Regions from separate parts of the Homo sapiens genome. Here all the other regions are linked to region 3. The links come from fine-mapping of genetic effects on gene expression. A gene starts in region 3. Each other region holds a variant in brackets. All regions are shown on one strand. Distances are from middle to middle. Region 1 overlaps PEPD (peptidase D). Region 2 overlaps PEPD (peptidase D). Region 3 holds the start of PEPD (peptidase D). Region 4 overlaps PEPD (peptidase D).

Evidence for each region.
Region 1: its variant is fine-mapped to the expression of PEPD in skeletal muscle (GTEx, PIP above 0.99).
Region 2: its variant is fine-mapped to the expression of PEPD in whole blood (INTERVAL, PIP above 0.99).
Region 4: its variant is fine-mapped to the expression of PEPD in whole blood (TOPMed, PIP above 0.99).

What each region holds. Positions count from the first base shown.
Region 1 is chr19:33,393,026-33,401,123 of GRCh38, reverse strand. All of the region lies in intron 12 of PEPD (peptidase D), which reads left to right. Among named protein-coding and RNA genes, the nearest start is that of CEBPG, 23 kb to the right of the region's middle. RefSeq lists enhancers at 4,202-5,031, 5,032-5,861, 7,849-8,098. The variant T/G (reference allele first, on the strand shown) is at 4,870.
Region 2 is chr19:33,446,293-33,454,390 of GRCh38, reverse strand. All of the region lies in intron 9 of PEPD (peptidase D), which reads left to right. Among named protein-coding and RNA genes, the nearest start is that of PEPD, 71 kb to the left of the region's middle. The variant GACACCGC/C (reference allele first, on the strand shown) is at 4,628.
Region 3 is chr19:33,517,869-33,525,966 of GRCh38, reverse strand. It overlaps PEPD (peptidase D), which reads left to right and starts at 4,176. Exons shown (of 15, transcript NM_000285.4): 1 at 4,176-4,223. The coding sequence starts at 4,207. LOC105372370 (a long non-coding RNA gene) reads right to left here and starts at 4,033. Exons shown (of 3, transcript XR_935918.3): 1 at 3,953-4,033; 2 at 2,471-2,546; 3 at 190-568. RefSeq lists enhancers at 2,949-3,911, 3,912-4,875 and a silencer at 3,967-4,166.
Region 4 is chr19:33,405,772-33,413,869 of GRCh38, reverse strand. It overlaps PEPD (peptidase D), which reads left to right. Exons shown (of 15, transcript NM_000285.4): 10 at 227-295; 11 at 2,121-2,198. It overlaps LOC124904692 (a long non-coding RNA gene), which reads right to left. Exons shown (of 2, transcript XR_007067229.1): 2 at 4,905-8,098. Among named protein-coding and RNA genes, the nearest start is that of CEBPG, 36 kb to the right of the region's middle. RefSeq lists an enhancer at 6,613-7,170. The variant C/T (reference allele first, on the strand shown) is at 3,232.

The DNA of each region.
Region 1 (8,098 bases), 120 kb after region 3:
GGCCAGCGTAGGCCAACCTGTCCTGCCCTCAGCCCTCCCAACCCCAGGCAGCCTGCACAGGCCCCACTGGTACCTCTTGACCTCCCACCGCGCGCCGTTGATGTCTGTCAGGGCAGGCAGAGGAGGTCCCCTGGAGGGGAGCCAGCATCCTCCCAACAAGGCCAGCTTTCAGGAGTTCCCCCTGGGCACCTCCCGCTGTCCCCATCCCGCTCAGCCAGCCTCCTGCCGAGTGACCCCTGGGTCCTCCATAGCCCTGGCAGGGGTGGAGTCTAGCACCCACAGGATCGAACCCCAGCTCTCTGCCCTGCAACAATAGAAACCATTTCCCAGCAGTGATGGGAGGTCCTGGCTTGTCACCTTTGCCCAGAGGAGAGAATTGAGGGATGTGGTCTTCTCATGTTCTTGCTTCAAGCCTTCCAGGGCTTCAACACAGCACCCCTGCCGTAATCCTTGGATTCACCAGAGCCTGGGCAGGTTCCTATGGGATCACCATGTGCTGGCCAACCCCTAGGCCTGGCCCTCTACAGGCACATGGCTCCCACGACTCTGACTGAGATCTGTTCGGCAGCTGCCAGGGTCCAGCCTGCAGCGCAGAGGGGCTTTCCCTGCCCACACCGGCCCAGGCACAGCTGGCCCCCCAAGGCACGCAGGTTCTGCATCTTTGGTTATAAGCAACAGAACAGTCTCCAGCCAATTCGGTCATTTGGGGCTGCCACAAATTCACAGAGGTGGAAAATCAGGTCTGGGCTGGGGCCAGGGCTGCAGTGGCACAGGACAATGGCCCTGTACTCACAGCTGGATCGTCTGGCCAGGGCCCGCCCTCAGCACACAGGCCCCAGCCACCTTCTGCAGCCTGGAGTCCCTCCATCTGGGTCGAGGTCAGAGATCACCTCGTGTTGGCCATGCCCAGGTCATAGTCCAGCCCCCCCAGCTTGCCCCCACCCTCGCCCACTGCCTCTCACCCACAGCTATACAGACCTCCAGAGAGACAGGCAGGCCCAAGGCAGCCCCCTGTGTAGGGGAGCTCAGGCGTCCTCCAGGAGCCAGGTGGGCTTACCGCGGGCAGAGGGGATAGCCCAGTAGCGCAAGGCTTCAGAGTCCAGGATGCAGGCCCCAGACCCAGAGTGCCCCGAGCCCAGCCCCAGCTCTGCCGCCTGCTGGCCAGGTACCTTACTTAAGCCCCAAACAGGCGAAGGATAGACCCCTGCTCTCCCAAGGCAGAGTCCACTTCAGAGCGGGCCTGGCCAGCTCTGGACCGTGGCATCTAGTTAGACATGGAGTGCCCTCTGTTAAGGACCCACAGAGAGCTGGCAGCTGCCAAGTGCGCCCTCAGTGTTCAAGGAAAAAAGAAGAAAGAAAGATCTGGAGCCTCCAGAATGCGGCCTCAGAACTTGATGGCTCGGCGGTCGACTGAGCAGTCCCTGCGGCCCCACAGCCCGTTGCTGGGATGAGTTGCAGCCTCGATCGCCGGCCCAAGTGTGCTTCAGAGGGGCCCTCAGCCACCGTCGCTTTCAGAGGAGGCAGACTGTGGGCAGGCCTTTGCAGATGGTGCCCAGTCCAGCCTCCAGAGCCCCCACCAGAGGCTGAGGAGCCGCGGAGGGACGCTGGGGGCAGTGCCAGGCCCCAGCCCCACACCTTCACGCATCCAACAGGAACAGAGCTTGACAAACGCATGAGTGCAAGCAGGGGGACCCCAGATGTGCCCCAAAAGGAAGACAGGACAGAAAATCCAAAAGTCAATAAGCTTGTGATGGGGTGACAGCGCTGATCGGACTCACCTGGTTTAGCAGCTGCCGAGGAAAACAGCATTTTCTGCGGAATTGCTTTGCTTAAAAAGCAGCAGGCCGGGCTCTGTGGCTCACACTTATAATCCCAGCACTTGGGAGGCGGGCGGATCACTTGAGGTCAGGAGTTGAAGACCAGCATGGGCAACATGGAGAAACCCTGTCTCTACTAAAATTACACAAATTAGCTGGGCGTGATGGTTCATGCCTGTAATCCCAGCTACTCGGGAGGCCAAGGCACGAGAATCGAATCGCTTGAACCTAGGAGGCGGAGGTTGCAGTGAGCCAAGATCACACCACTGCACTCCAGCCTGGGTGATGGAGTGAGACCCTGTCTCAAAAAACAAACAAAAAGGAGCTGCCACCCCTGAGTATGAATATACAGGTGTCTCCAGGCAGATGGGTGGGTGAGGACAGAAGAGCGCCAGAGGGTATGGCCAGCGGGCCCTTGTGGGTAAAAGGAAGAGGGAGTGAGAGCGTGAATTCCCGTGCGCCTGTGAAAACCATAAAGGAGGTGCAGGAAGGGACGGGACAGTTTGCTTGCTGCGTCCCTTCTTATTCTTTCTGACTCTTCAGCCATGGGAAGCATCCCCCGTTAGCTGTCAAATCCAATCCAGCCTCCACGAAGCAGTCGCCCAGGGGCGCCACTCCTTCTCCTTCCTTCATTCTGGGGATGAGAATTTCTTGCTCAGTTTTAAATACCACTAGTCACTCGAATGAATGATCAGTGTTTCAGATCCAGCAGGAGGATTTGGCAGGTGAGCGTGGCCTGTGGTGTATTCACCTAGTATCTGTGAGCCCAGCTCCTGTACCCTCCACGGAGAGCCCTCCGCCGGGCACAGCCTCTCAGGTGGGCCAGAGTCTCTCAGACACCCTTCACGTACAGGGCTGGCCTCCCACTCTGTAGCTGTGCCAAGGTGGGCTGTGTCATTGCGAACTGTGTCACCATCACATCAAGTGGTAGTGTCAGACATCCACGGGCAGTCGTGAAATCCAGATGTCCAGAAAGTCAGAGCCCCAGGCTGCAAGGGGCTGAGCCTCCCAGCGGCGAAGCAGAGCTTTGCAGCCTGTGAGGGGCGGGGGCCCACCAAGCCCAGCAACCCTGTACACCCAAGCATCAGGCTGAGGAGCTCAGCTTGGTCAGCAGGCAGTGCCGGGCCCATCAGGGTGCCAGAGGTAGCACCAGGCCACGGGGAGCAGGGCGGCGGATTGACGCAGCATAGGGGCCAAGGCCTGGGGGGTGTTCGGTGGGAAAGCCATTGTCTTACCCCTCAGTCTCCTGTGCTGAAACCAGGGATGGCCCAGCCCTGGCTGGCCTCACCTGCAGGAAAGCCTGCTGCGGCCTGGGCAGGACCTGGGTGGCATCTCCACAGCTGGCATCCTGGCCAGCTCCCTGGCCCAACTCAGCAGCCCCAATTCTGTCCAGAAAGTGGCCAGACCTCGGGGCAAGTCCCCAGGCCCCATGTGGCACTGAGAAAGGCCTGAGCTGGGTCTCCCATCCCGTGGTGCTGCCTGGTTCATGCTGACTCTTGGGGCAGGCACAGGCCTCAGGCCTGGCAGGGGTGTCTGGGGCCACAAGGCCAAATCCAGCTAGGCTCATCTCAGACCATGGGAGGCAGGTCCTCCCCCAGCCCCGCTCCCACCCACCACTGGGCTTTGCTGCCCAGACCCAGCCTGGGGTCTGGAGGATCCCTGTGTAAGGGAATGGAGCAGCCCCCCAGCAGCCCCCCCACACCTACCACCCACACTGAGCTGTGTGGCATTGGTGTCCCCCAAGGGCAGAGTCGGACTCCATCTGGATCACACACAGTGAAGGCCCGTGGGGCAGGCCCTGGGCCCACAGAGCTGCCCTCCGGATGGGGCAGGTCGCCTCCCGTAGCATCGAGGAGGCCGTGGCCAGGTCAGCCCCCTGCCTTGTCCCAGCGGAAATGCCCTGGGTTCGTGGGTTCAATTCCTGGGCCAAGACAAACACCCCACCGAGACTGCCCGACTGCATCCTGTGACCTTCCAGGGAGAGTAAATAAAGCAGGAAACCCCATAGCTAAGCCCAAAGGAGAGGCAGGAAAGAATGGTCAGGACCCTGGGGGGTTGAGGAATGCAGGCCTTGGCCCCTGATCCTAGGGCTGGTGGGGGAGCATTCCTCACTGTCATTCACAGTCGGCGAGGAAGGAGGCTGCGCTCGCTCAGACGGAGACCCTACCCTGGCGGCTGGGAGTCCACAGGCGGGTGGCAGGGCAGGCCCAGCAGCTGCAGGACCTCGGGGAGTGCCATGCACGGGAGGTTGGGTGGGATCCAAGCTCAGCGCGGCTCCTGTGTTGGGGCAGGCTGCCCACCCCATGCAGACCCCTGCATGCATGGTGAGGGGAATGGGGGGAGGCGCTGCTGGGACGGATGGGCGAGCCCGGCAGGGTGGCCCTGAGTCAGGGTCTGCATTGGCACAGCCACAGCAGGAAGGCTGTTCCTAGAAGCAGCACAGCTGTCCCTGTCCCGCGGGCTCAGTCCCTGCAGCCACCCTGGAGCTCCAGAGGACCCCAGCACTGAGGGCCCCATGCCCTCCGCCTGCAAGCCCCAGAGCCTCCTGTAGCCTCGCCTCCCAGCCCCGACCCAGCTCCCTCTCTCCTCACCCCCCCACCCTCCCTGGCCTCCCCGCCTTTCTCTACTCTTTCCTGTGCTCACCCAGGAGCCTCCTGTGCCCCTGTCACTGGGGGCCCAGCTCCTATCAACCTGGAACAGCAATGGTGGCCCACGATTCATGAGCTCTTTTGTGTTTCGTTCCCCCGCTCCTGGCTCTGTCCCTGCCCTCAGGGTCCTGGCCACTTGTGAGTGACGGGGGTGCTGCCAATGTGAGGTCAGAGGAGGGGAAAGAAGTGGCAGGAAGTGTCCCCACCTCCAAAACAGTCCTGACGGGGCGAGAGAGGGGCACTGAGGCGCGGGATGACCAGGTGGCTGGGAGAGGGGCCCAGCAGCACCTGCCCCGGCCCACCTGGCATGTGTCTCCTGTGGCCCCGTGGTCAGGGGGCACCTCTGCCAGCTTTGCTCCCCTCCCAGCCAGCGCCAGGGGCAGGGGCCCAGCAGCTAGACTTCC[T/G]GTCAGTCCTCATCCTCCGAGACGGCGTGGAGTGCAGGGCTCAGGCAGATAGGCATGGCGGCCATGTGCCACCCCAGTCATAGATACCCTCTGCGGCAGGTGCCAGGACGGGGAGGACTGTCTTCAGTGTGGGCACCATGTCCACCCCTCCTGCCGGCCGCAATGGTGAGCCAGTTCCTTGGCCTCTTCTTACTCCTCGGGGCACTCTGCCAGGGTGTGGGGGAGGAGACTCGAGGAGCAGCCTGGGCCAACACAGCACCCTGCTCTCACGCAGGGTGAGTGGGTCCCCAGAATTTCTGGCAGCAGATGGGGTTCTTCTACTCACGTCCCGTGCAGGGTGGGGTGAGCTGGAGGTCCTCAGCCCCGTGCCAGCTCAGCCAGCCCTCAGGGCCTGCCCTGGGACCCCGGCCGGAGCCTGCTGTCCTACACCCCTAGAGCCTGGCTCACACCCATCCATCCCGAGGGCCATGTTCCACAGATGAAGTGCGCTCTTTGTCTGGAGGCAGCTCTGAGGATGCTGCCTTTGTAGCTCGGTCAGGCCCGGGAGCCCCCTGGGGCTGTCACACTCCGGGTAGGAGGCCTCGGGGCTGTGATGGATGCTTTGAGGCTCCAAGGAGCTGGCCTGGGCCCTAGGCCCAGCAGGAGCGGGTGCTGCCTGAGGAGACCAAGTGGACCCAGAAGACCACTCAGGGGCTACGCTGGCCACACCTGGGGCCTGGGTGGCAGGAGCAGCGGGGCTTGTTCCTCTGAGCCCTGCCATTTCATGAGGCGCATGATGGGACACTAACCTAGAGGCCACCCTGCCCGTTCTAGGGTCTGAGTACACAGAGGAGTGGGGGATGGGGCACAACACTGGCTGCAGGAGAGCCATGAGAGAAGCTGGGGCTCCTCTCCTTCCAGGCGTTTACCAAGCATCCGCAGCATGCCAGGCACAGAGCAGAGTACGGGCACCACCCTTGCAAGGCCCAGAGGTCATAACCAGGCCCAGCTGTGCTGTGTGTTCCGTGAATTCTCAAAGTACAGGAAGGGGTAATCAGAGAGGGCTTCCTGGAGGAGGAGCCTCACCACAGAGGCCCACAGGAGGAATGGGAGCACATCTGGGAAAACGGGCTTGGAGGAGGTGGCCCCAGCTAAGGAAACAGCAGGTAGGGAGGGCCAGTTCTTGGGACCCGTGGCCTTGGTCCAGCCACCCCACCCAGGAGTGGGTGAGGGAGAGGCTGGAGACCAGGCCAAGCTGAGAACCTGGGCTTCGTCCGGGGCCGGGAATGGCCCTGTTTGCCCCGTTCGTTCTAAAGAGATGGCCCAGGCATCCAAGGGGTGTGCAGCGGAGGAGGGAGCCAGGCAGACTCCAGGAGGGGTGGGGCAGGTGCAGGGGTGCTTCGGGAAAGCCAGAATGAGGTTTGGTGCTTGCTGGGGGTTGGGGCACGCAGGGCAGCTGGTGCCCAATTTCTGCTGTGTGATTCTCAGTGTGGCATCTGGGTATAGGCTGGCTAGGGGCCGGGGGTGCCTTCCAGCCTGGACTAGAGAGCTTGACGGTGTCTCCAGGCTGCCAGGGTGGGAGGAGCCTGAGAGTGGGCCCAGGCCAGCAAGGGAACCCTCAAGTTGGTGCCCACCCTGCCAGCCTAGTGCAAGGACAGTGACCCTCACACACTCCAGGGGCCCCCGCCCAGGCGGTGGGTGTCGTAACCACCATCCGGGCCAGAGGCTGGGGCCAAGTTGCTGGAGGTTGAATCACTGTCACAACCCTAACCACACACAGGCAGAAACTCCCTGCTCCCGGCCAAGAGAGCTGTGTGCAAGGCCTTCCCCGAGGGTGCACAGGCAAGGAAGACCAGCGGCGCCAAGGGGACCCCCGGGCCGGCACATCTGGGCGGCGCCGGGCCTGCCCCCGGGAAGGGCCACCGCAGAGCATGATTTATACCTGATTCCCGCCCTCTGCGGAGGCTGGGCCAAGAACGTAGCCCACTGCTGAAGTTAGCCTGGTTGGAAAGCTGGCTGCACTTCCCGGGGCTCCCCTTTGGTGACCAGAGAAGGGCGCGTCCGAGAGGAAGCAGTTGAGCTGGGCTTGGGGCACGAGCCACTCACAGGAGGCCTCCCAGCCCCATGTGCCAACTTTGCAGGCTGTTGGGAGACCTGAGGGGCACTCACTTTATGCCAGGCCCAGCGGTGCCCTCGGGAGACCCCCACCCTCGGAGTGAGACATGAGAAGCAAACGAGCAGATCCGTCCAGGGGACGGCTGCAGGCTGGATGGACCGTGCAAGGAGAAATCACCAGGCCTGGGACAGCAAGGCAGGAAGGTCTCCTCTGAGAGGGGACAGCTTTTATGCAGAGACCCCTTGGATGAGGCATCACAGGTCAAGGCCTGGCACAGGCCATAGCAAAGGGCCTGAGGTAAAACGGCCTGTGTGCCTTGGGGTGGTCTGGCCTCTGGAGGATGCAGCAGCAGAGAGGAAGGGCGAGGTGGGCCAGGATTGTCCGGGCTGGGTTCTCAGAGAAGAGCAGCAGCAGAGGCTGGGCAGGCTTGGCGCACACCCCCAGGAACAAGTGAATGTCAAGTGTGGAACCAGGGCTGGCTGGTCATGCGCGATGGAGGAATGGTGGCCAATGCCACTGTCCGGGGTGCTGCCTCCAGCCCCCAGGTGACACAGAGGCTCTGAGAGCAACCCCCCGGGGCCTGCCTTGTGGCTGTTTGTTTGTTTGACCAGCGGCAGCTGAGGCTCACGGAGGTGGGGCTGTTTGACCAGCGGCAGCTGAGGCTCACGGAGGCGGGGGAGCGGCCAAGTGGGCTGCAGTTATCCAGGTGTCCTTTTCCGGGATGTTGTGCCCCTCAGAAAAGCCAGGGGTGCGGGCTGGGCCAGCCAGGGGTGTGTGTGCCCAGGGCTGCCCCAGATACAGGGCAGCTGCAGCCAGAGTTGCCCCAGGTCTGCCCGGGCTCTCCCCCACGCCAGACCCCGGGCTCTCCCCCACGCCAGACCCCAGACCCCGGGCCCTCCCCCACGCCAGACCCCAGACCCCAGACCCCGGGACGGCCTCCCCGACGCCAGACCCCAGACCCCGGGACGGCCTCCCCCACGCCAGACCCCAGACCCCGGGACGGCCGCCCCCACCTCAGCCCCTAGGAGGCTGGGCTGATGGGGAGCTGGGCTCTGAGGAGGATCCCTGCTCTGTGTGGGGGGTGGGGGCAGGTCTGGGCATCTCCACCCCTGCCACCCTTAGGCTGCTGCCGTG
Region 2 (8,098 bases), 72 kb after region 3:
CCCTCAAGTGATCCTCCCACCTCAGCCTCCCAAAGTGCTGGGATTACAGGTGTGAGCCACTGCGCCTGGCCTCTTTTTTAAAAAACTTGTATAGACCCATGGATATTTATTTTATACTTTATAATCCAGTATTCTGTGATGCTCAAATCCTTCCAGCTTTGGGCATCGAGGGCTCTTTCGTTTGACTCCTGTGTCTTTCTGATGCACCCCGTCATTTTAGTTTTGGAGCATTCCCTTCCTTTCTGGCATTGCGGGTTGCACCGGGCTCATCTTGTCTGTTCCCTGCTCCAACCTCAGAGTTAGCCATTTCACTAAGGAGCCCGGTTCCTTTTATTGGAGGATGGTATTAGAAACCAAGATTGGGTGCTGGGTGCACCTTAGATGAATTTTATGACCAGACGTCCTGGTGCAGAGCCAGTGAGGCATCCCAGTACACACTACTTTATTGTGGTTTATCAGGACTTTAAGAAGCCGACTTAGGAGGCAGTATAGTAGAGTGGGTAGAGCATGGTCCCCAGAGACTAGTGTTCTTGGTTTGGGTCCCAGCTCTGCTGATTACCAGCTTGGGCACATTGATAACACTACCTCAGTGTCCTCATCTGGAAAAAAATAATAGCACTTCATAGGAGGATTAGGAGGATCCAATGAATTGATATACAGGTATACCTCAGAGATATTGCGGCTTCAGCTCCAGACTACTGCAATAAAGCAAATATTGGAAATTTTCGTGTTTCCTAGTGCATATAAAAGTTATGTTTGCAGTATACTGTAGTCTCTTAAGAGTGCAATAACATTATGTCTCAAAAAATCAATGTACATGCCATAATTTAAAAAGACTTTATTGCTAAAAAATGCTGACACACACAAAGTGAACACATGCTGTTGGAAAAATGGCACCAGTAGGCTTGCTAAACGCAGGGTTGCCACAAACCTTCAATTTCTAAAAAAAGAAAGCAAGGCACGGTAAGATGAGGCATGCCTGTATGCATAACACATGGAGCAGATGGACATCCACTAAGCATCCTTATGGTGCTTGTTGTTGCTTTTTTATTTATTTATTTATTTATTTATTTTTTTATGACAGTGTTTTGCTCTACTGCCCAGGCTGGAAGGCAGTGGTGCAATCACAGTTCACTGCAACCTCAACCTCCCAGTCTTAAGTGACCTTCCCCCCTCAGCCTCTGGAGTAGCTGGGACTAGAAGCACGTGCCACCATGCCTGGCTAATTTTTTATTTTTCTGTGGACTTGGGATCTCATTATATTGCCTCTCCAACTCCTGGACTCAAGCGATCCTCCTGCCACGGCCTCCCGAAGTGCCGGGATTATAGGCGTGAGCCACCATGCCTGGCCATTGTTGTTATTTTTTCACTAGCATTTTATACAGGCTCAAAATAGGAAATTGAGCTATATATTTTTTTCCTTTAACTCTCTTAGCCATATTTTGAGACCAAGGTTTTTGAGATCATGTTTTGGGAAGCACCCCCATGTTTTTCTGTTTTCTGAAACAACTTGGAAAGCATAGGGCTTGGCTGTTTCTTGAAGGCATGAAGTCCTTTGAATCTCTCAGACCCTGTTGTTTCTCTGGGGAAGATTTCTTTGGTAACTTTTCAGATTTTCCTATGGGATTGTTTTAGTCCAAATTCATCACTTTTAGAGTCAGTAAGTATGTTTTCCTATAAAGTCTTAGTTTTCATCAAAGATTTTACATTGTAACCAAGTAACCAATTTTATTCTCATATATTTTTAAAATCTTATGTTTTTAAAATATCTCCTTTATATCTGTAGCTGTTTTTTCTTTCTCATTCCTAATGTAACTTGTGTTTTTTCTCTATGGATTATAATTGCTAGAGTTTTATCTTCTTTATTGGCCTTTTCATAAAATCAGCTCTTAAATTTATTTTTCAGTTCTACTGTTGGTCAAACTCATTGATTTCCAGTTTTATTATTAATTCCTTTCTCCTCTCTTCCTGAACCTTGTTTTGACGCATCTGTCTTTTAACTTGTTTAGTTGAATCTTAGTTTATTTTTTATTTTTTCCTCTTTAGTAATAAATAGATTTTGGCTAGTTTATTTTTGAATACTGCCTTAGCTATATCCTGGTATGTCTAGAGTGATTTGTTTTTGAACCTAAGAACTAACCTAGTGTATTTCTTTTCATTTCCCAGTAGATGTGGTTGAATTTTTCTTGGTGACCTTTTGGTTTTTAGCTGCTAGTTCTGTCACCATTGGAGCTAGAGAATGCAGCTGGTGTGAATCTTTTTGGTTTTTAATTTTGAAGTTTTTCTTCGTGGCTTATTTAAAAATATTTTGGTCAGTATTTTATGGAATACTGGAAAGTGTTTAGTTTTTATCTTTAGAATATATACTTTGGTGTACATGAATCAGGTTTATTATCTAATTCCAGTCCTCTGCCCCCTCCCCTATTTTTGTATATTTGCTCTAAGATTTAGAGAGATGGTTTTATAATTCTTTGTGATTCATGATAGATTTTGTCTTACTCATTTCCATGATAAATTGTTTGAGGCATAAAAGTTGATGATTGTTATGTCTTTATTATATATTTTGCTTTTTATAGCTTTCAAGAAACCCCTTTTAACCTATTTAATCTATGTCTTGAATCTGACTTTGCCTGACACTGGTGTTGCTATGTTTGTTGTTGTTGTTACATTTTCCTGGCATATCTTTGCTTATCCCTGTATTTTTAACTTTTTAAAATAGGTTGTTTATAAGGTGCAGCATACTCATTGTTCAAATGGAGAGCCTCCCCGTGTTAGGAGAGCTGTTTGAATTCACAGTGATAATCAGCATCTGTTCTCTTTTCTACAGCCTTATTTTGTGTTTTCTGGTTTCTGTTTTTTCCTTTGTGGCTTTAAAAAAGTTTTTCTATCTTTGGAAGGTTGGTGAAATTTCCTTTGCTCACTTTTATATGTATGCCATGTTAAATGTAGAATCACCTTTAAATCAAGAAAAAAAGACCTGTATTTCTGTTTTCTACTTATGTTCAAAAGTTAAACAATTTTAATTTTCTAATTTTAACAATTTAACAATTTTAAGTTTCTAATTTTCCTTAAAAAACTAGAAAATTTTCCTTAAAAAATTAGAAACTTAGCATAGTTTTGATGCAAGGCAGGCAAGCCCTAAAGTGGGGCTTATCCCACGAGGGTTCTTGGCTTCACCCAGGAAAGAATTCAAGGGTGAGCCAGTAGTAGGGTAGGAAGAAACAGCTTTATTAAAGCAGCGGTGTTACAGTTCAGGCATTGTGACAGCTCCGTGACTACCCCTGCAGAGCAGGGCTACCTACAGGCAGTGTGCTGAGAGCCGCAGCTCAGGGCGGTTTTGCAGTCATATTTATACCCACTTTTAATTACATGCAGAGTAAGGGGCAGTTTATGCAGACATTTTTAGGGAGGGGTTAGTAACTTTTGGTTCATCAAGTCATTGCTATGGAAAGGGGTGGTAACTCCCTGGTGTTGCCATGACAATGGTAAACTGACATGGCGCACTGGTGGGCGTGTCTGATGGAAAGCTGCTTTTACCTGGGACCTGTTTTGGCTAGTTCTCCATTTGGTCTGGTGTCCGAGCCCCGCCTCCAGAGTCAAGTCCCGCCTCCTGCCTCAGTTTTACTTTATAATCTCCCTTTCCCCTACCTTCTAGTTTTTTATTATATAACTTCTTTTTCCTTTATTTTCAACATTTGCATTGTCTTACCATCATTTTACCAACGGTTATTTAGTGAGCACTGTCTCACTCAATCCAATGTGGACCTCAATTTTGTACCATGTTTTCCCTTTGCTCGTGTGAGTGCTTTAAGTTTTGATTCAGTACTTTCAGTGCCTTGCTTGTTGGAGGGTTCTTTTGTTGTCTCCTGCGTGAATGGTGGCTTCAGTGGGTATTGACTCTTTGTTCCATAAAACCATTCCCTCCTTTGTTGCCAGAGATCTTTAGCAAATCATATTCCTCCTTCTTTCCAGGGAACTTTTCATTTTCTTGCCCTGGATGCTTATAGGACTATTGATTCTTGGAAGTAACAGTATTTCCTGAGGATCTGTCTCACTGCCTTTCTGGGCAGGGGCTGCACTTCAGGGCTTAGAATCCTGCCAGCTGTCTGGGAGGACCAGGAGAAGGCAGGCTCCTTGGGAAGGGGCACAAGCCGGGGCTTGCTTAGCCTCCAAGTTCTTCAGCCAGTAGGCAGCACGGGGGGTCTGGAGGGACGAGCAACTCAGGCCATAAAGTTCACATCGGGTGTGTTCTGACCTAGACTGATAAAAAGTCAAGAAGAAGCAGTCACACCTAACACAGAGACCAGGTGGTGCATGTGACAGATCTGCGGAGACAGAGGCAGCTTGGCCACCAGCAAGGCTGGTCTGCACACAGTGGACAGGCCAGTGGCAGTGGCCACTCCTGCACCCAAGCGGGGGCATCACATGCTCTGCTTCCTGTCTGTTACCTCCCTGGTCACTCCCAGAGGCAAGCATTCATCCCCTTGGGTCCTGCTACCTGAGACCTGTGATATAATTATTGATCATGTCACCCCGGACAGATTTCATTCCCTGGTTTCTCTGTGGCTTCCTTATCAGTTTCAGAAGGTAACGTGGCACCCGCTGGGATCGGAGCCATGCACATTGG[GACACCGC/C]CTGGGGTGGTCCCTGTGAGCACCTGCGATAGTCTATGACCGACTTCTTTCATCTGAGCAGTGAAAGCTTTCTGCATCTCAGGGTCATCTTTGAAATTCCTCCTCCTCACGTACTAGGTCTCCTGGATGTGATCCGGGGCTGTTAGCTTCCTCTCATGATGTCCACTTGCGCACCAGTGAGAAACTCAAGCCTGTCTCCCATTCTCCTGCTGTGACCCTGCACACTCGTTCTGCTGCTGTTTTCTTGTGTGCATTTTGTGGCTTGGTCCCTTCCTGTTTTGGCGCAGGCTTCTCCGGTGAGCTCTCCTCATGGATCCTGAGAAAACATGGGCTGGTGGATCTTTTTAGGTTTCCTCTCATTTTTCACCCAGGAGACCTCTCTGGCTCTTTCTGCACAGCTGGCCAAGAGCTGTCTGATTGACCCCACCATGCGGGGCTCTGCTGAAATTGCTCAGGCCCAGAAGAAAGGGGGAGGAACGGTTTAGGTTGCTTGTAGGTTCACTGTGCAAGATGGGCGACCCCAGAGGAGCTGAGGAGGGGGCTATGAGTTGCACCAGGTGGTCCAGACAGTACCGAGTCACCTCGGTGGACATGGAAGATGTCTTCTCTACAGTGGGCCAGCTACCTGGAGTTGGCTTTGGCCACACCCCCATTTGCTGCCTGCCTTCCCCCGAGGCCCCTGTGAGAGTGGACTGCAGCCTCTGGGGGCCTCTGTCCCGTCAGGGTCTTGGTTGGGGAGTGTGGGGAAACCCTGGGTCCCCACCTCTCATTCTCCAGGAAGAATTTTCTAGCAAGAGAAAGGCCAGAGTTTATATACTGGTGGCCTCTGGGCCACATCCAGTACACACGCAGTTTCCGTTTGGCCCAGGCAATAGGTATTTTAACACTTTATTTTGGTTCATTGAAGTCAACCAAATTTGAAAAATCAGATTTTTTTGGCTTTTCCTGAAAATCAGAGTAGCTGGTAACCGTGGGCTGGAATTTCCACAGAGCAGCAGCGTGGTGCTTGCTACATAGCTTTCGTTCAGGGTGCACGCCACAGGCCCCACCGCTCCCCGTCACCTCCCCGAGCACTGAAGCCGACTCTTTTCATGGCTTTCATGCTGTTGGTTCTTTCATAAATGAGAAAGCCTTCTCATACCAGCATCTCTATCAAAAGAGAAAAAAAAGATAGTCGAAAGGGTCATGTATTTCAAGAAAAATAGGAGAGCTCTGGGGAAAAAAAAAGACTTTTTTTTCTGTTTTGCATGCCACTACCTGGCCAGCTTCACTCCTGTGGGTGCCTCCAGGCCTCTGGAGCTGGTCCCCCACTCTAAAGGAGCCTTTCCTGTTCTTCCATGCCGGAAGGAGCCCGTGGTAGATGGGAGGGTGTTTAGCTGGGCAGGTGGACCAGACGCCCACCTCGGAGGTGGCTGTGTCCTGTCTGGTTCTGCCCGTGAGAAGGCGTGGCTCCAAGTCCTGGGCGCATCTAGTGAGGAGCAGCCCCGCAGGAGCAGTTATTGAGGTTTGGCTCCCAGAACAGGCAGGCAGTAGTGATTATGCTGTGAGGTTTGGTGCCGGTTTTTAGAAAATCCTCATCCAGACCTATCACCTGCTGGTGCGAAAGACGCTCCCTGCGGGAGTAATTATTCCGGGCCGTGAGTTTTTCTCCTCCTAGCTCTGAGTTCTGTGGATGACATGAATGGTTTCATCCAGGAAGGGCTGTCTCCATACCTGCCGGCAGGCATGTCTGCTCTTGAAGCCTGGAGGTAATTTATGATAAAACCAAAGTTGAGGCTCCTCCCCATCCCTGTTAGATACTCCGACAGCAGGCTCTGTGTTCCGGGGCTGTGAAGCTGAGTTTGCGTCCTCAGGAACCTCCCGCACAAGGCCATCCTCTGCCTTTGTGGTTCAGGCTGAGGGTTTGGACTCTGTCTGTGGCATGGAGGATGGGCAGTGTGGGTCTTCGTGCTTCCTCTGGCAGCTGTCCAGGAGGGAGCCATGGGCCTGGCCACAGCTGCCTTCTTCAGCTGCCCCAGAGTAGGGTGAGGAAGCATCTTGGGGGTGGCTGAGCAGGAGGGAAACTGGCCTGGCCCCACCCACTCAGCCACCGTCCTCTCGCAGCTCCCTCTGGCTGTGGATTTCTGTTGGCTTCCGTGTTACAGGTTTTGAACAGGCCTAGATGCCCAGGAGCCAGGCTGCTGGTGGGCACAGGCTCCATCCCATGTCAGTGACAGGCCTCAGACTTGGCCTGGGCTAGCACGCCCCTGCCCTGCCTGCACAAATGCTATTGTCACTGCCATGCATCCCGGGCTCCTGCACCTGCAGGAACTTGGCAGGGGGACAGCGGGAAATGGATCTGGGGTCATTGTCACTGCTGCCCACAGAACCAGCCAGCTTCCTTCATGTGAATTCCACCCTCTTGTTAGAAAAGCCCGTTTTGTGGAGGCAGAGCCCCAGGGTCCATGAGTCTGTGTCCCTCCTCACCCACAGTCATCCGGCACTGGTGCAGCAGTGTTCCCCTGGGGCCACCCTCCATGAGTGTGCCACAAGCCTTGTGGATGCACCTGTGACAGCACTTGGGGTCCCCTCATTGGTGAGTGGTGATTGCTGACCTCCATGTCTGCACCTGGGGATAGAACTCTTCCCATGTCACAACCTTCAGAAGCAGCACGGTGGCACAGGTGGCCCTCCTGGGCATCCCAGCTAGGGCGAAGTGCACCATAGCTACTTCTCCAGCCCAAGGTGACCGCAGTTCATTGCTGGAGGGCCCTGGCGGTCTAGTCCCCCACACAGCCAATGTCTGGGTGGCTGGTTGAGTCGGAGCCTGGCTGGGCTTTGCTGGTGCTGTTTTACTTTCTTACTGTCCATCCCAGCAAGATAAGAGGGGCTAGATGCCCTTCGTGGGGCCTGCTGATGGCTGTGGAGACTGGCGCATAGACTGGACAGTGGGAGGCACATCGGAAAGCCGTGGTCCTGGGACCCTATCAGCAGAGGTGGCAGAAAGGCCTCACCACCCTCGGTGCGGGGTCCTGATGCCCGCTGGGCCCTCCCCTCTGGGTGGTGAGCAGCCGTGGCTGAGAGCATGCTGCTTTTGCAAAAGGGGTCCCAGCTTCAAGGCTGGGGACCGAAGTTCCTCCTGGATGCACTGTGCAAACAGGGGACCCCTCACTTCTGCTAGGCCAGCATGTGACTGTGGGGCTCTCGGCCACCCTGTGCTGAGAGGTCGCAGAGGCTTGGGGATGGCATGGGCACCTGGTGCTGGTTGAAGCTGGGCAAGTGTCATGATCCCACGGGTGAAAAGACTCCAGAGAGTGTCCACGTGCCCGGGTGGGTCTAGGTCTTAGCAGCCAGGATGACCCGTCCGGTGAGGATGCAGCCAGTGCGTCTCTCCCCAGTGTTGGCTGATTCATAATAGGCTTTAAGCAGTCCATATATTTTCAGCATGAGCTGGAGTCTTTGAATCATTTATCTTGGCAGCTCTT
Region 3 (8,098 bases):
CCTTTTTTTTAATCAAGATCTTGATATGGGATAATAAAATTACCAATGAATAGCCCTGCACAACGTGGGAAATGTAATAAAAGGTGAAGGCAATAAAAGGTGAAGCTTCTAGCCACTCCGCGGTGATACCCACTCGTAAGAAATAAAAGTAATTATCACCTGCCCAACCTGGTCGGCTCACTCTGCATGTGCTGAAGAAAACCATTTCAGAACTTTATTTCTTATATTGAATGTCGATAATTGGATGTATTTATAAGTCTCTCTGGAAGAAAACAGCTTGTGATTTCAAGATGGGAAAACAGTCTTCGAAACAGTGAGAAACAATATATTCCCCATTTCCACACACACAAAAAGAGCTTGTTTCCTTCGATGTTTTCAGGTGCTGTTGGAATGATTTGCTTTTCCGAAGCCACCGTTCCATTTCTCATCTTGAATTGCCTCGTAGACCCCAGCAAAGCATTCAGCAGGGACCACTTCATCTGAGGCGGTGATGGGGGCTTCCTTGGGAAGGCCCCTCAGCTCTGCCTGCCTCTTTTCTACAGGAAGATAGATGCCCAGGTGGGCTGGGCTGGGGGAGAAAGGAGAGGAGGAGTAGAACGTGATGTGGGGGCTCCTGTGAGGAGGGGGGTTGATGGATGGTGGTGACAGCTGGGGTGTAGGCCTGGAGGAAGGAGCAGGCCACACAGGCCTTTGGAGTGGGAGAGCTGTGGCTACCTCTGCAGGCCCTGCAAAGGCCCAAGGCTGGGATCTGCCAGAACCAGGATAGAGAGACGGTCTCCTGGGCATTCCACACCCATCACGCTCCTTGCTTTCCCACTTGGGAAGACACTGGGTTGCCATATGCCACCCTGCCCCTATCTCACACCCACAGTCCCCTCTATTCTTCCTCTTCTGTTTATTTGGTGCTGGCTTTCTGCATCCAGTCTTCTATTCTCAGCAAAAGCAAACAATCGCAAAACACCCAAATGCCATCTTGTGTAGGGCTTTGACCATCTGAGGCTGGCGGCCCCGTGCAGTGGCTTTATTGGCTCTTATTGGCTCTTTTCAGTTCTCTCTGCTAATCCTCCTGAGCTCCTGCTGGAGAGAGGGGTTTGGATCGGCAGCTTGCAGCTCAGAATCCCCCAGGATCTCCCCATTAGCCAAAAGCAGAACCCTCGAAGCCCCGTTCTGAGGCCCTCCCAGATGGTGGACTCCCCAGGGACAGTGTGGAGGGCTCCTCTACCTCTGTCCCCAGACCAAAGATCCTCTAGGCAAGGGCAGGGTCTGGATCCCTGGCCCTCACAGCATGGCCAGTCCTGGAGTGGCACTGTGGGCAACAACTGGGTGGTGCAGGGCAGAACCAGCATCCAGGCTACCTCCAGTGCAGTCCCACAGAGCCTCTGGTAGACCAGTGCCCTCAATCCACAGCAGAAGATGGACAGGGCTCTTCCCGGGGACCTCCCCTTCATGGCCCAAGGGTGGCTCATGAGTCAGAGCCTAGCAGGCCGCCACATCTGGGCCTGCCGTCTCCAGGCAGCCAGCTGTCAGCAGCGTCCACGGAGTTGCAAGAGTGGGGGCTAGATTGTGGGGAATGGGTGGAGGAGGGAAACCTGGCTGGACACAGTGTCCCGGGACACAAGAGGTGTCTTCCCAGGGTGAAGCTTCTTTTGCAAGGCCTGACGGGAGTTGGGGGGGCCCTTCTGGAGAATAATGCTATGCTGGCTACCGGGCTACCAGGCTGACCGAGTGCAGACATCTACCAGCCACCTGCAGGGCTTGACGAGAGGAGACTGTTTCGGCCACAAGGGCCTGTGACCTCGGAGGCAATGCCGCATGAGAGTGCTGCCTGGCGCGCTGCCTTGGCTGATTTACACACTCCCACTTCGACTCTCTAAAATCAATCTTCCCCCAATTGCCTCCTGGCTCCAGCAACGTCCTGGGTCTGCCCTGCATAAGTAACTAAATGGTCTTCTCCCATATTCTGGGCGGCTTCTGGAGCCCCTGCCACAGCCTCTGATGGGGAGGGGTGAGGGGTGAGGGGCAGCCCTGCCGGAGCCCCTGATGGGGAGGGGAGAGGGCAGGGGACCTGGGTGGGCAGGGGTCATGGGCAGTGCCTCCATATTACTGTCCACAAACAAGGGAGCTCCACTCAGTTGGTGGGTGCCTTCCTTCCATTATTTTGTGTTTGGGATATTGACTTCTTTTTCATATTAGTAAGCACTCAGAGCTGGCAGCTGGCTTAATTTTGACATATTTTATGTCAAAAGAAATGGTGGGAGGCAGGTGCAATGAATGAGCTGGGGGGTATGTTTTCCTTCCTTGAAGGCGCATGGAAAGCTCATTCTGCTCACCCTTTGTTATTATGTATTTTTTAAAGCGCCACTTACTAGGGAGTTGAGTTTCTTAAGCTGAAGGCGGACCTACTGCTTAACTAGGGGTGTTAGAAGTTCTCAGGGGCCCCTAGGCCAGGCAGTGGGGTGTGAATCCTTACCTCTGTTCTTCTTCCTGGAAACTGGCAAGAGGGTGGAGAGAGCTCCTCTTGGACCTTGCCTGGAGGTCAGGGACCCCTGCAAATTGTCCATGTGTTGTGGGAAGGGGTAGAAGGGATGAGGCCCCCCCTCTTCCATTAGCTCTCGTTTTCCTTATCTGGGACCGGGAGGTGGGAGGGGCTGTCTGGAGGGGCCACATTCCTCCTGGCAGCTTTGGTCTCTGGCTGTGCCTGCAGGTTTGAGTGTAAAACCCTCTAGCAGCCCTGTGAGGTGGCCCCATTAGCTCTCTCCTGACAGATGAGGACAGCAGGGATGGTACTGGGCTTCCAGGTAACTGTGCCACGTGCCCTTCACTACCCTGCTTATGGCTGGCTCCCTTGCTCCTATTTAAGGGGCCTATTCTCCTCCCTGCTTCATGGGGACAAACAGAAGCTGCTTCTCCAGTCATAGCCCCTGGCTCCCACCAGCCTGGCCATGGTGACCCACATCCTTGTTTCGATAAAGAAACAAGAAGCATCCCCCAACCCACAACCTTTGATCAGAAGCCACTTCCAGCTGTGGGACAGCTGCAGGGTGGGGTCAGGAGCCCCACACGCCTATCCTGGGCCACCCATCCACCTGTCCACACACATCTGTACACCACACACATCTGTACACCCTTGGCGCCAGGGACGCCCTCCCCCAACAGTGTGGGGCCCCCTTCCTTCACAGGGGCAGTGAGGTCACTCCTCAGGGTATGGCTTCATGAGCTCAGCCTCTGTGTGAGCACTCTCTGGCCTCAGTTTCCTCATCTGTATAATAGACTTAAAGATAGTCTCGACCTCATAGGGCTGTGGTGAGGTTTCTATGAGCTCACATGTGCAACGCATTTGGGCCGTGCTTGTAATGCCCTGACTCTGTTGGCAGTAGGGAGGGCAGCGTCTGCTGCAGGGTCCCTACACCTTCTCTGCAGGACTCTGCACCCAGTACCAGTGCCCAGTGGGGCAGAGGAGTAAGCCTTCTGGCAGACTCTCCCTCCTAAACCCTTCTCGGCTGTGCCCACTTCTCGCCTGCCCTCCTCCCTGGCTTCCCTTCCTCCAGCTTCTCCATTCTGCAGCCCAGGAAACCTAGAAAAGATCCTACCAGACTTAACTCATAGGCCCCACAGTGGAGGCCCCGCAGGGTCTGGCCCTTGCTTCCCTTAGGCTGCCCCTCTCTCGCGCACATTCTCCTGGACGCTGCACATTTAGAGTCCTCCAGTTGCCCCACGGCCTTTGCTCAAGCCCTTTCCCTTCTTAAACAAAAATCGCCACCTCTGCCCCGACCCTAGCCTGGGTCAGTCTCCCTCCTCTCCTCCCACGTGGTTTCTTTATTCCTATGTGTTCTTCTCCCGGGTGGGCTGGTACGCCAGATCGGGGACTGAACCAGAATCAAGATGTCCTCTGCTTCAGGACCTCCCTCCCACCACGAAAAGGCTGCAGATGCTGCCCGCTAACCCGACCTACTGTCTGCAGCCGGCAGCCCGCTCATTTATCCTGGCCGAGCTCTTGGGCCCCCAATCTCCGGGAGCCCCGCCCCATCGGGGCTCCGCCCTTCCCCAGGTACCGCCCCTTCCCGTCCCGTGGAATTTGGCTCTGGAGGAGGTGGGTCAAGGACTCCATGCCCCGCCCCCTGCCCCGCCCTTACCCCGCCCCATGCATTGGCACCCGGAGGGGCTCAGCTGACGCCGCACTTCACGTGACGCCGGTGCCGGGCGAACATGGCGGCGGCCACCGGGTGAGTGCTGCGCCTCCCTCGCTCTTTCCCGCTGGCGTGGAGAGGGGCATGGGTGTCCCGGCCGGACCGCGGGTGAGAGCGTCAGCCGGGGTCGCTGAATGCCGCGGGTAGGCGCCTCTTCCCGTTGGCCCGGAGTCCCAGCGCCGGTCGGCGAGCTGCACGCTCCGAGTCAGGGTCAGCGCGGGGGCCGCAGCTCCTCTCCACCCTCCTGGCTGGCTCCGGCCCCACCTGCCCGCGTCTGGCGGCCCCACCGTGTGCGGCTGCGGTGGGGGCTGGGGTCGACACGCATGTTCGCTGCCAAGACCCCCGGGTAGGAGGGCGGCGTTGCGAGGACCCCAGGGACCCGGGCGCTTCCCGGAGGAGGCGGTATTCGAGACGGACTTGGAATTCCCTTTTCCCAGCAGGGCACTTCCCCATTTCTTTCAGGGGCCAAATGTCACCCCCTCAGGGAATCCTTCTCTAACCATCTATCCCACTTTTTGTGCCCTCATCATCACCTGATAAACTATATAGAGCATTGTTTGTACTTGTTCTTTATCTTCTCTGCATTTAGAGTGCAAGGGCAGGTATGTTACCTGCTTCTCAGTAGCCCGGTGCCTTGCACACAGTAGGTGCTCCATACTGGGCTAAATGAAAGAAAGCTGAGTGGTCGTAGTGGGAGGAAGGGTGGACAGATGGGTTCACCAGAGCGTTGGGCGGAATCTCCCAGATAGGGAGCATCTGAGCCCAGGGTAAGGGACAAAGGTTGAGAGTTCAGAGTGTTCTGGGGACAGGGGTGCATGCCTGGGGCTGGTTGGAAGGTGTGGTGTTCCAGGTGGCGGCTTCAGACTTTGCCCTGATGGGCTGGAAGGGTTTTGTTACAAGCTGCTTGATCTGTTTTTTAAAGATTAGGCTCCCCTGAGCTATGTGTGAGTTCAATGGGAGAAGGTGTGGGTCTGGTGGTACAGTGGGGTAGAGGGGGCATGGTGTAGGAGGGAGCAGTATTCCAGATGCCAGGTTGGAAACTGAGGTCAGAATGGGGGATCTAGTGGACTGAATGCATCTCTCTTTTTAAGATACAGGGAAAATGGCAACAGAAAGTGGGTTCTAAGTTGGCCCCCAAGGTTGAGGGAGCTTAGAGCATACAAATCAAATATTTTGTGGGCACCTGCTATATTCCAGGAATAGCAGTGGGTCTTCCCTTAAGGTACTCACAGGCCACTGGAACAGATGGACACATGGGACTCTGTCATCCATCTGCTTGCCGTGTGGTCTTGCCATTTGCAAAGGAGGGGCATGGACTCTGAGCTCAGATAAAGTGTGGGAAGGCTTCACTTCCTGGGTGACTTTTGTGCTAGTCCTTCAGCAATGAGACTCCCTTCAGGTAGAGAACAGTGCAGACAAAGTCTCAGATGGGTGTCAAGGAACTCAGGGTCAGATCCTTGAATCCAGCCTGTGACCCTTTTAAAGGGTAGACTGAGCAGGCTGGTGCCCAGCTGTGGGTGTGCTGTCTCTCTGGTTAGGCTGGCTCGGTGCTCACAGGGAGTGCCAGGGGTTGCATTTGGGTTCAGGATTCCAAGCTGGCCTGAGACCTGCTGCTCTCCTGAAGGAACCAAGCTGATGTCTGGACGGGAGCAAGTCTGGAACTGACTGGATCCTGGAATGAGAGCTTTTCTTTTTCTCTTTCTTTTTTTTTTTTTGAGACGTAGTTTTGCTCTTGTTGCCCAGTCTGGAGTGCAATGGCATGATGGCTCACTGCAACCTCCACCTCCCAGGTTCAAGCGAGTCTTCTGCCTCAGCCTCCTGAGTAGCTGGAATTACAGGCGTGTGCCACCACACTCAGCTAATTTTTTGTATTTTTAGTGGAGATGGGGTTTCACCATGTTGGCCAGACTGGTCTCGAACTCCTGACCTCAGGTGATCCACCCGCCTCCGCCTCCCAAAGTGCTAGGATTACAGGTGTGAGCCACCACGCCTGGCCCCAGAATGAGAGCTTTTCTAGCAGAACCGATTCTCTGGGCCACCACACAGGGTGGGTGAGGGAGGCAAAACAGAGTGGCAGGTCTTAGAGAGGTCTGCTATTGAGAGGGTGTGGGAGCTTCCAGAGCCTGGCAGTCTCCTTGGGAAGAGCCATCCCAGTCTGGTATGGGGCTTTCCCATGTACTTTGAGCCTGAGGTTGACCCCAGTGGCTTCCTTTAGAGCAGAATGATTAAGTGTGTTTCCCGCAAAGCTCAGCTCCTAGCCACACTCACAGAACAGATCATAGAGTCAGGCATAACGAGGCATGATGCCAGCAAGTCACGGCCATTGCCGTGGGCTCACTGGGAGTTGGGTTTGGTTGTCTGTAGAATCCTACCAGAGCCTGGGACAGAGGGGGTCCATGAGAGTTCCAGGTGACTGGGGTGTGCCCCATATGATTTGGGGAGTAGGGGAAGCCCTAAACTAGCATCTCAGATTTAATTTGAAACTCAAGAATCTACTCTGAATGCATCTCTCTTTTTAAGATGTGGGGTGTTTCAGGGTTGATCCTACTTTCTCTTGCTAGCCTGGGTGTAGGCTTCAGGTTGAGACAGAGTGCGCTGAGGTCACCTCCCATCCCCTCATGGAGAGGGGTCCCTATCCCATGGCACTTGGTGGCACTGCTGCTGTCTCCTTAAGCAATGCTTTGAGCTTTCCACAGACAGGATTGATAATTTGAAATCTGTCAGCTCCAGCCAGACCTGTCTGCATCTGCTCTCCCACATGGCTTTTTCCATTCCCTTCTTCCCTTGCACACTCACCCAACTAGCCCTGGAATGTTCTTGTCCTCTATATGATTCTTCACGTATTTGCAGGCCCAGCTCAGATGGTTCCCTTTCCCAGAAGCCTTTCCCAGCCCTCGGGTAAAGGTTTAGTGCTCAGAACTCCAGAACACTCAGTTTTCTCCCCAGCAGTACACTTTTACACGTCTGCCCATTGTGGGTTAGGAGTTGCTTCCCTTCATGCCTCTCCTAGCATCCTTAGAACCCCTGGGGTTCTTTTGTATCCGCAGGGCCAGTCTGTGGCTGCCCTGTGATTGGTGCTTGGTGAAATGAATGAAAAGGGGATTTACTCTAAATTAGTCCAGCATCCCATCCTGCTTTCCTGGGAGACTCCCAGTGATTGAGGGAAGGAGTCATGGTGGGGAATGGGGACAGAATTCCGAGGGGTAGGATGAAGAAATAGCCTTAATTCTTTAACTGAGTGGCTCCCAGGAGCTGTTGCAGAGCCAAAAAGAGGCAAAGGTGAACTGCCCTGGACGTGTACCCCTGTTGAGCCGTAGGTTACACTGGAGTCAGCATTCTTCTGGAGAGTCTTCTGCAGAATTCACATTCTGGGTCAAGAGCCCAACCCCACAATGTGAACCTTGTGCTCCAGGAGCAGAAGACTCAGGCCGACTGGGGGCTAGGGACGGGTGGGCCTATGGGAGGCAGGCTGGCCACTGAGTATCCCTGTGCCTTCCCTGGCTCTTCCCCAGGTCCTGACTCCACACAGCTGTCTCTTGGTTTCTGTGTATGCTTGGCACCCCTATCCGCCCCAGGAGACAGAGGTGCAAGGTGGAGGTTGCTGGCCAGTTGCCTCGAGGTCCTGTTCCGCCGTGGCAACCCTCTCCAGCCTGGCGCTTACGGTCTGGTGCCCAGTGGGCTGCCTGAGCATCTGTCTGGTGCCTGGCCCCACGCTGGAGGCTGAGGGGAGGAGGTGGCTGGTCCTTGGCTGGCCTCTCCTACTGGGAACTTAGCGGTGTGACCCTGTCTAGAAGTGGCTCCACATTTCATTTTTTTTTTTTTTTTGAGAGGGAGTCTCACACTGGAGTGCAATGGCGCGATCTCGGCTCACTGCAACCTCCGCCTCCCGGGTTCAAGTGGTTCTCCTGCCT
Region 4 (8,098 bases), 110 kb after region 3:
GGGCCCCCAGCTTCTCTGTCACTCCACACTGGCCTCTGAGATTCTGCAGCCTATGACTGACCCCCAGGCTGTAAGCCTCACAGACTCACACTGAGAGTTTGGACCATTGTGGGGCCACGGCAGGGGAGACCATGGGCCGAGGGCCTTCCCTTGGGGTTCATGGGGCTCGTGGAGTGGGGTGTGCCTGCTCTAGTGCCCCAACCCTGACGCGTCTCTCCCCCTGCAGCCTCTTCGAGCACTACTGCTACTCCCGGGGCGGCATGCGCCACAGCTCCTACACCTGCATCTGCGGCAGGTAAGCGGGGCACCCTGGCTCCCCTGGGGGTGACCAGTGGGAGGAGGTAGGGCAGTTAGTGAGTGGGGGGCTCCACCATCCCCCAGCTCAGCCACACTTGCTCACTCACACGCCCACACCAGCGCCCGGCCCAAGCTTGGAAGTCGCTCCTCCCTCCCAAGACTCCCGGAGCTGAGGTGGCCTCTGCCTGCAGGACCTGGCACTGGGTGAAGGAGGGAGCATGGCCTGCCCACTGCAGAGGGGCTGCTTGGCGTCCCCTCCCTCCTGTCCCCAGCTGGTCAGCACAGCAGCTAAGCACAGGAAGGCCACTCCTCCACACGGGCACACACACAGCATGTGGGGACCGGGCTGTGAGCTCAGGCTGGGCAGCTTCTGTGTGCAGCAGGGGTGGAGTGTGGAAGGGTCAGTGCAGAAAGTGGTGGTGGTGTGTCTATGTGGGTGTGGCTGCGTGGGGACCAGTGCTGCTGTATGTGGGTGTGCATGTCACTGTTGGTGTGCCTGCTCGTGGCACATGGTGCCGAGGGGCAGGGCTCTGTGTGGGTGTGTGCGCTTGGGTGTGTGCCATCAACACCTGGCTGGGTGTGCTTGGAGGCACACACATGGTAGAAATGACAGTGATATGGGATCATTGCCATGCTGTGTGGGCCATGCACAGCGGCATGTGTCCCTTGGGGTGTGTCTGCCCCCACATGCGTCCTGGCTGTGGGCGTGGCCCCCTCGTCTCCTGCGCTCTCCCAGCCAGTCTCCCTGCTCTCTGCCCCTCGGGTCTGGCCCCTGCCCGGCCAGGATGGAGCCAGGCAGCTCTGCCAATGCGCACGTCCCCGGCACATGAATAATACATGTGAAATCTCAGTCCTTGGAAATGTTCTTCTCTGGTGGATGGAGAGAAAACCATTATTTCTACTTTTATGATTCCCAAGACTCCTGAGCAGGGCCATAAATATTACACCCAGGTGGGGGTTTCCTTCCCCCCTTTGGACAGACTTAAAAGTCCTTTTTTTCTTAAAGGCATCGCTCATTAGGGAAGCCTTCTCAGGCAGAGGAGCGAGGATCCTCTTGGTTTCCTCTCTCTCCAGCCTGGTCAGGACGCCAGGGCAGCTCCAGGACAGCCGGGGCCCTTTCCATAGAGGCCCTCTCCCCTTTGGCCACCAGGAAAGGAGGGGTTCCGTAGGGCCCTTCTCCAGGCCCAGGAACTGCTGTTCCCCTTTTTTGCTCTTTTTTTAATTTAAAGACAGGGTCTCCCTCTTTTGCCCAGGCTGGAGTGCGGTGGCATGATCATAGCTCATTGCAGTCTCCACTTCCCAGGCTCAGGTGATCCTCCTAGCTCAGCCTCCTGAGTAACTGGGATTACAGCTGTGAGCCACCTAACCCAGCTAATTTTTTTTGCATTTTCTGTAGAGGTAGGGTTTCGCCATGTTGCCCAGGCTGGTCTCGAACTTGTGGGCTCAAGTGATCTGCCTTTCTTGGCCTCCCAAAGTGCTGGCATGACAGGCGTGAGCCACCACACCCGGCCCATTGCTAAGTTTTACATGTGTTCCACATGATGCCCACATCCCAGCCCAGAGGGCAGCCGCCTAACGACGCCTTCAGCCAGGAGGCTCTGCCTGCAGACTGAGGCTGGTTGCCAGCCATGTGACTGCGGGGTGACAGGGCCACCATGTCCCCCGGCCTTACCTCTGGCTGTGGACCTGGTCCAGCCACGCCTGGGCCTGTGCTGGAGGTGGGGACAGTGCTGCTCATGGGCAGGGGATCGAGCATCCACCCCCTCCTTCAGAGCCTGCTGCAGAAGAATGGGCTTTGATCACCCTCCCCCGGCTCTTTGCAGTGGTGAGAACTCAGCCGTGCTACACTACGGACACGCCGGAGCTCCCAACGACCGAACGATCCAGAATGGGGATATGTGGTAAGTAGGGCCAGCGGCCCTGGCTCTGTGTGTGAACAGCCAGGCCAAGGTTGGACTCAACTTCAAGATGGCCCAGAAGCCTCTGGGTCCCTGTCCTGAGAGGGCTGACCACAGCAAGTCCCTGGGCTTCTTGGCCCAGACTTCTCTGCCAAGGCTATCGGCCTGCGTGGTGCCTTCTCCAGGGCCAAAAGCCTGCACCCCCCAGGGAGCACTGAGAGAGAGGGTGCAGGAGAGGGGCCCCCGATGGTTTCCTGTGGGCCATGGGATTGTGGGCTCTCTGAGGGGGCCTGAACCATCCCCAGCCTCTGTCCAGGCTGTCCTCTCCGTTCAGGGGGCACCACGCTCGCATCTTTCTGTCTTGGTGCCAGGAGGGCAGGCCTCTTGGTCTGGAGCTGGGAAGACCGCAGGGAGCCTCCCACGCTCTGAAACCTGCCATCCTCCTGCTGCAGGAGCCCGTGGCCTCTGCGGCCCTGCGTTCAGCAAGTCAGCAGTGCTGACCCGTGGCTGCGTGCAGGGCTTTCCTGAGCACGATGTGCCGTGCTCACAGTTCTTCATAGAAGCCACGACAAGGAGATGTGGGCAGGCCCTGCGGCCTCCGCCCCTCGGGTAGTCTTTTCTCTCATTGGAGGACTTGCAGTCCTACCCACAGCCCCTCGGTGTGCAGGGCAGAGCAGCTGGGCCGCTGCCCCGGGGCAGGGAGGAGGTGTGTGAGTACTTGCAGCCTGGCCTCTGCTCAGTCCCTCCGCGTTCTTTGCCTGTGCCCTGCACGTCAGATGTCAGCCAGGGCCAGCCCAGGCAGTGCAGAGCTCCTGAGAGCTACCCCAGTGCTGGAGCCCTGGGGCTCAGCCACAGCCACGCAGGCCCTGTCTTGGCCTCCAGACATTTCACTGTGGTCACTGACTAGCAGAGGATGTGCCTTGTCCCTCCCAGTTCTTTGGTGCCCTTTCTTCTATGGCAGATGCACCCGAACAAGCCTCCTGCAGAGCCCTCTGCCCCCCAGCAGCATGGCATGTCCTCTGAGGCCTGCGTGGCG[C/T]CCAGCTGGGCTGCCTCCGCCTTCCCATCGAGGAGCCACCCCAATGTGCCAGCTCCTCCAGCGGGAGTTCCCATGATGGCTGCTCACCGGCCTGGACCCCGCCTCACCCTACAGCAGGTAGTCGTGGGAGCCCACCCCCCAGAGTCCCCAGCCATGCCCACTGAAGGACAGGAACACACATGCCCAGACCTATGGACAGACAACCAGCTGCCCAGAGAGCTGCCGAGCGTTGAGCTGTCAGGGCCGAGTATTTGCAGGAACACACTCAGTCTCGGGGTCCTCCCTGCCCTTGGGCACATGGCCTACTGAGACTGCCCGGGCTCCCCGCTCACCCAGGTCCATAGCTGATGAGCTGTTCCAGCTCAGGCCATGCTGGCAGGAGCTCAGCTCAGACCTTGGGTGGGGCCAGCATATGCCGCCACAGTAGGGCTGTGTTAGGAACACGGCAGGTTGAGGGTGCAAGCGGAGGCAGGCCAGTGGAACCGCCACCCACTGCGCGCTGGGCCTTAGTGGACTCCCTGGCCTACCCGACAGCACTGGCTCCACGGATCCTGGTTCACTCTGGCACCACAGTGAGCCCCACAAATGGTGGGCGAGTCCCCAGTCCCCCCTGCGTAGCCACCGTGCTCGGGGCTGGGAGGGTCAGAGCGGAGCTCAGCTTTCCTCCTACATGCCTGGGGCCACAAGGTGACTGGGCCCTTCTTCTGGGTCTCTGTGGATTTTCTCACCCACTCCTCGCCCTGATCCTGCGATGTAGGCACCTCACCCCATGTGTGGGCCAAGGAACTCAGACACAAGGAGGGCACCAGGCCCAGGTGTGAGGCCAGAGGCACTTGGGGAAAGAATTGGCAAACTCAGACTTGGCTCAGCAGGGGACTAGAGCAGGAGAGGGGGTGGCAGCCCTGCCCCCACACCGTGGACCCACCAGTGGCTCCAGACACCACCTGGTGTCCTGAAACTTTTTAAGAGACGGTCTTGCTCTGTCTCCCAGGCTAGAGTGCAGTGGCACAATCATAGCTCACTGCAGCCTCAAACTCCTAGGCTTAAGAGATCCTCCCACCTCAGCCTCCCGAGTAGCTGAGACTACAGGTACAAGCCACCATGCCCAGCTAATTTTTTTATTTTTAATATTAAAAAGACAGGGTCTCACCATGTTGCCCAGGCTGGTCTGGAATTCCTGGACTTAAGTGATCCTCTTGCCTCGGCCTCCCAAAAGTGCTGGGATTACAGATGTGAGCCACGGTGCCCAGCCCTGAAACCTTTTCTAAAGCTCTTTAACCCTGTAGCGCATTCTGGCTGGGCCTGGAGGACAGGACATGGGAACCCAGTCTCACGGCAGAGGCCACATCAGTGGGTCCCCACAGTCCAGGGGGCACTTCTGGGTGGCTGGAGAGCCCTGTGCCAGAGCCACGTGGCCATGAGCTTTTCTCCTCTGTGGGCTCAGCACACCCCAGAAGAAGTGACTGCTCCTTTATGACCCTCTTTATCTGCCCCGGAGAGGGTCCTGGCATAATCCCAGATGCTGTGGCCTCGGCCCTCCGGGACAGCACATGGCACCTGCATCTCCCAGCTGCAGCTGTAGAGGCAGGAGTGATCCGAGGATGTTAATGCCAAGTCCAAATTGGTGATTTGATTTTTCTAGTGCTAACTTTGAAATGTAGCCAGTAGAGTAATTATGAGTTTATTGTAGTCAATTTATTATGCAGCATTTAGAACAACATGTTTTGTTGATTACTGCTACTGCCAGATTGCTGGTGGCATTTATAGTCCATTGTTGTATTGAAATTGATCTGCCGAGCGCCTACTGCGTTCGGTAAATAATAAATCAGTCTGTTATCCCAACATGAAAGCCACGATGCTTCATCCTAAGGTATGAAACTAAAGCATGAGCCCAGCGTAGAATTCCCCCGAAGCCGAGCGCCTCCCAGAGCAGTGCGCCTGCTGCAATGGCCTGCTCTGGGTTTTAGTCCTTTGACTGGGGGAAGACACCCCAGAGATATTTTAGCTTCTAGGAATGGGATTTTGTGGGGAATCAGAGCTGGTCCAGGGCAGCCAGATTATACAGCTGTACTGCAGAAGGGTGGGGGGTACTAAGAGGAGGCCAGCCTTTTCCATCCCTCTCTCCACAGTCCCAGATATGAGCACTCCCCCAACACGCACACACATGGATACACACACAGGGAACTGACCGAGGCTGTGCTGCGTTGCAATGATCACAGTGTAAGCCCCTGCCTCCCTCTCTCGCAGTGGCCACCTGGCACAGCGTGGGCCCTCTTCGGGCAAGAGCAGCAGGCCCGGTGTCCTCACCGAGCTGGGCAGGCCAGGCCCTGATGCCCACTTCCAGCAGCTGGTTCTGCAGCACAGGCTGGAGGTGGGAGCCACAGGCAGAGCTCAGGCCAGGCCTGGTTTATTCTCAGACAGCTCCCGTCCCCTGGTTGTCCTGTTCCGTGTCTTCGACCCAAAAGTGTCCTCCATGATGCGTACATCAAGCGGGGTTTGGGGCTGGCTAGGCCCCCCTCCTACTGCTCCGTCCTTACCCTTCCAGCAGCTTCCCTGGAGCTAGGCTGAGTCCACTGTTGGCCACAGTCATGGTCCAAGAGGGCCTATGAACCAGACACCCTGGTTCCTGCTTCAGGTCAGGCTTGTCAGCCAAGGACTGAGACAGACTTCCTGAGGGCCGTCCCTCACCCCCAGCCAGCCACCCCCGGGCCCCTTCCCGCTTCTCTGGGTGTGATGCCACCACACCCACTCGCATGCACGCAGGGGTGAGGGACGGGACTTTGTGGTGGCTGCATACACCCTCAGCCTGGTTCAGAGCCAAGCGGCCCCATGTGGGGCCTGTAGCCGTCAAGCCTCCGGGGGTTTTGCTGTTGTTCTCAGAGTCTTTTCCCGCTGTGATCCTGGGGTTCGCCATGAACCCCATCTCCAAGTCACTGTACCAGAGGGGCCATTCGCTGCTTTTTTTGTTTTCCTTTTTAAACCCCTCAGGCAGACCTTCAAGAACAGGGTTACAAAAGCGCAGCACACTTGCTAATTAACACTTTCAACATGTTCACACAGATTGAGGTGCCTGAGATCACTGGAGGCCATTCCTAAGTGGGAGGCCCCAGAAGACCCCTCCCCACTCACTCCAGCCCCGAACAGGTTTGTGTGAGCACAGAGGTGGCCAGGACTCATCCCCCTGCTTCTCCTGGTCGTCTTCTGAGCCCCCATGTGCTGCCCCCTCCTTCCACAAACAGCCTGGGCTGTGGGCACCAGAGCCACTGCAGGCCAGCAAGCTTCGCAGCTAGGGCAGGGGGCGCATGGTCCACGATTCTGGGAAGCAGTGCGCCCAGAGAGGGACCATCCCTTGCAGCACTCCGGGCCTGAGGCCGCCCCAGGTCCTGGAGAGGCTCACCCCACAGGGCAGAGGTGGAGGGCTCTGGTTGGGAAAGCAGCTGGGACACTCCTCCTGCCTCCCTCACTTCCCGATCAGGTGGTGGGGGTTGGAGGGGGGCCTTAATCTACTGTGGCCCCTCGCAGAGTTTCTAGAGCACGTGTCCCAGGATGCCCCAGGCCTTGGTTGTCCCAGTCGGGATGCAGCTGGTGGGCAGCAAGCCTGTCCTTCCAGAACTGGCCAGAAGAGGGCAGTGTTGTCTCAGGACGATGGGCCAGGCCTCACCCCTGCTGGGCCTGGTCTTTTGTGTTGCTCCTGGGCATGGGGGGTGGGTGGCCAGCCTGGCTAGGAGGAGAGACCTGTCCCAGCCCTCACACTCAGCAGCCACCAGTGCCCTCTTCCCCTCCTTCCCTGGCTAGATAATGGCGAGACCTCGACCCTGCAGGCCATGGGGTGCCCGCTCACCCAGGACCTCAGCAGCCACCTTGGCCTCACATGGGCCCTGCAGCCTGGGATGCGGCCAGCCTACTCCTGCTGTCTACTCAGCCTGAGTCTGTCTGCCACCATCGCGCTGCGGACCCCATGGGTGACAAGCTCCTGGGGACCCCCTTGCCCCACTCCACCTGGGGCCCAATGCTTTGGTGAGCTCCAGGGTAGAGCGTTGCCCCCAGGCCTGCTCTCTGCTGCCTGTCCCAGCCCAGCTCTCCCCCACCACCTTGCTGTTTCCTCCGAGGGAGACTTGTTGTCACCAGCCAGCCCTGCCCTGAGCACTCTGCGGTCTTAAAGACATGCTCTTGGGGCCACAGAACGCCCTCAGGAGGGTCCAGACCCACAGGCATGGCCGTCCCATCCCATCCCAGTTAGGAGCGTGCTCTCCATTCTCACCCGTCCTCATACACATGGACAGGCCTGGTTATGAGCAGACACCTGCCCACGCGTTTTCGGTTTGTCTCTTGTTTGTGCTTCGTGGCTGCACCCTCCTCAGCTGATGTCATGACCCACAGTTTGAACAGCACTTGTCCAGACATCCTGGGTGCTCCCAGACATCATGAGACACTGGTCACCAAAAAAAGCAAAATACAGCATGTGCTGCGCGTGTGACTCTCCCTCCCGCCTGCCAAGGCCACTGCCCTGACGCCCGGGCCTCACCCCACTGTGCTTTCCTGGCAGCTGTCCTTGTGTCTCACCCACCTCTGGACGAGGCACCCCACAGTGCTCTTCTGGGACCCGGGGCCCCTCACTGGTGCCGTGCCTCTGTCCATGTCATGCATAAAATGGCAATGCCAGTTCCCTCCAGACACCCAGGAGGCCCACAGGACGCAGCTGCTCCCGTCACCCACCGCGTGCACCAGGGATTGCTGGCTCTGGGGACCAGAAGCTGCTGCTGTCATGGGCTGGCGGCATGGGCAGCTTTCCTGTCTGCCGAGGCCCTGGAGGAGTGGCCGTCACACGAAAAGGGGGCAGAGATGCCCAGGAACGCACTGGAGAGAG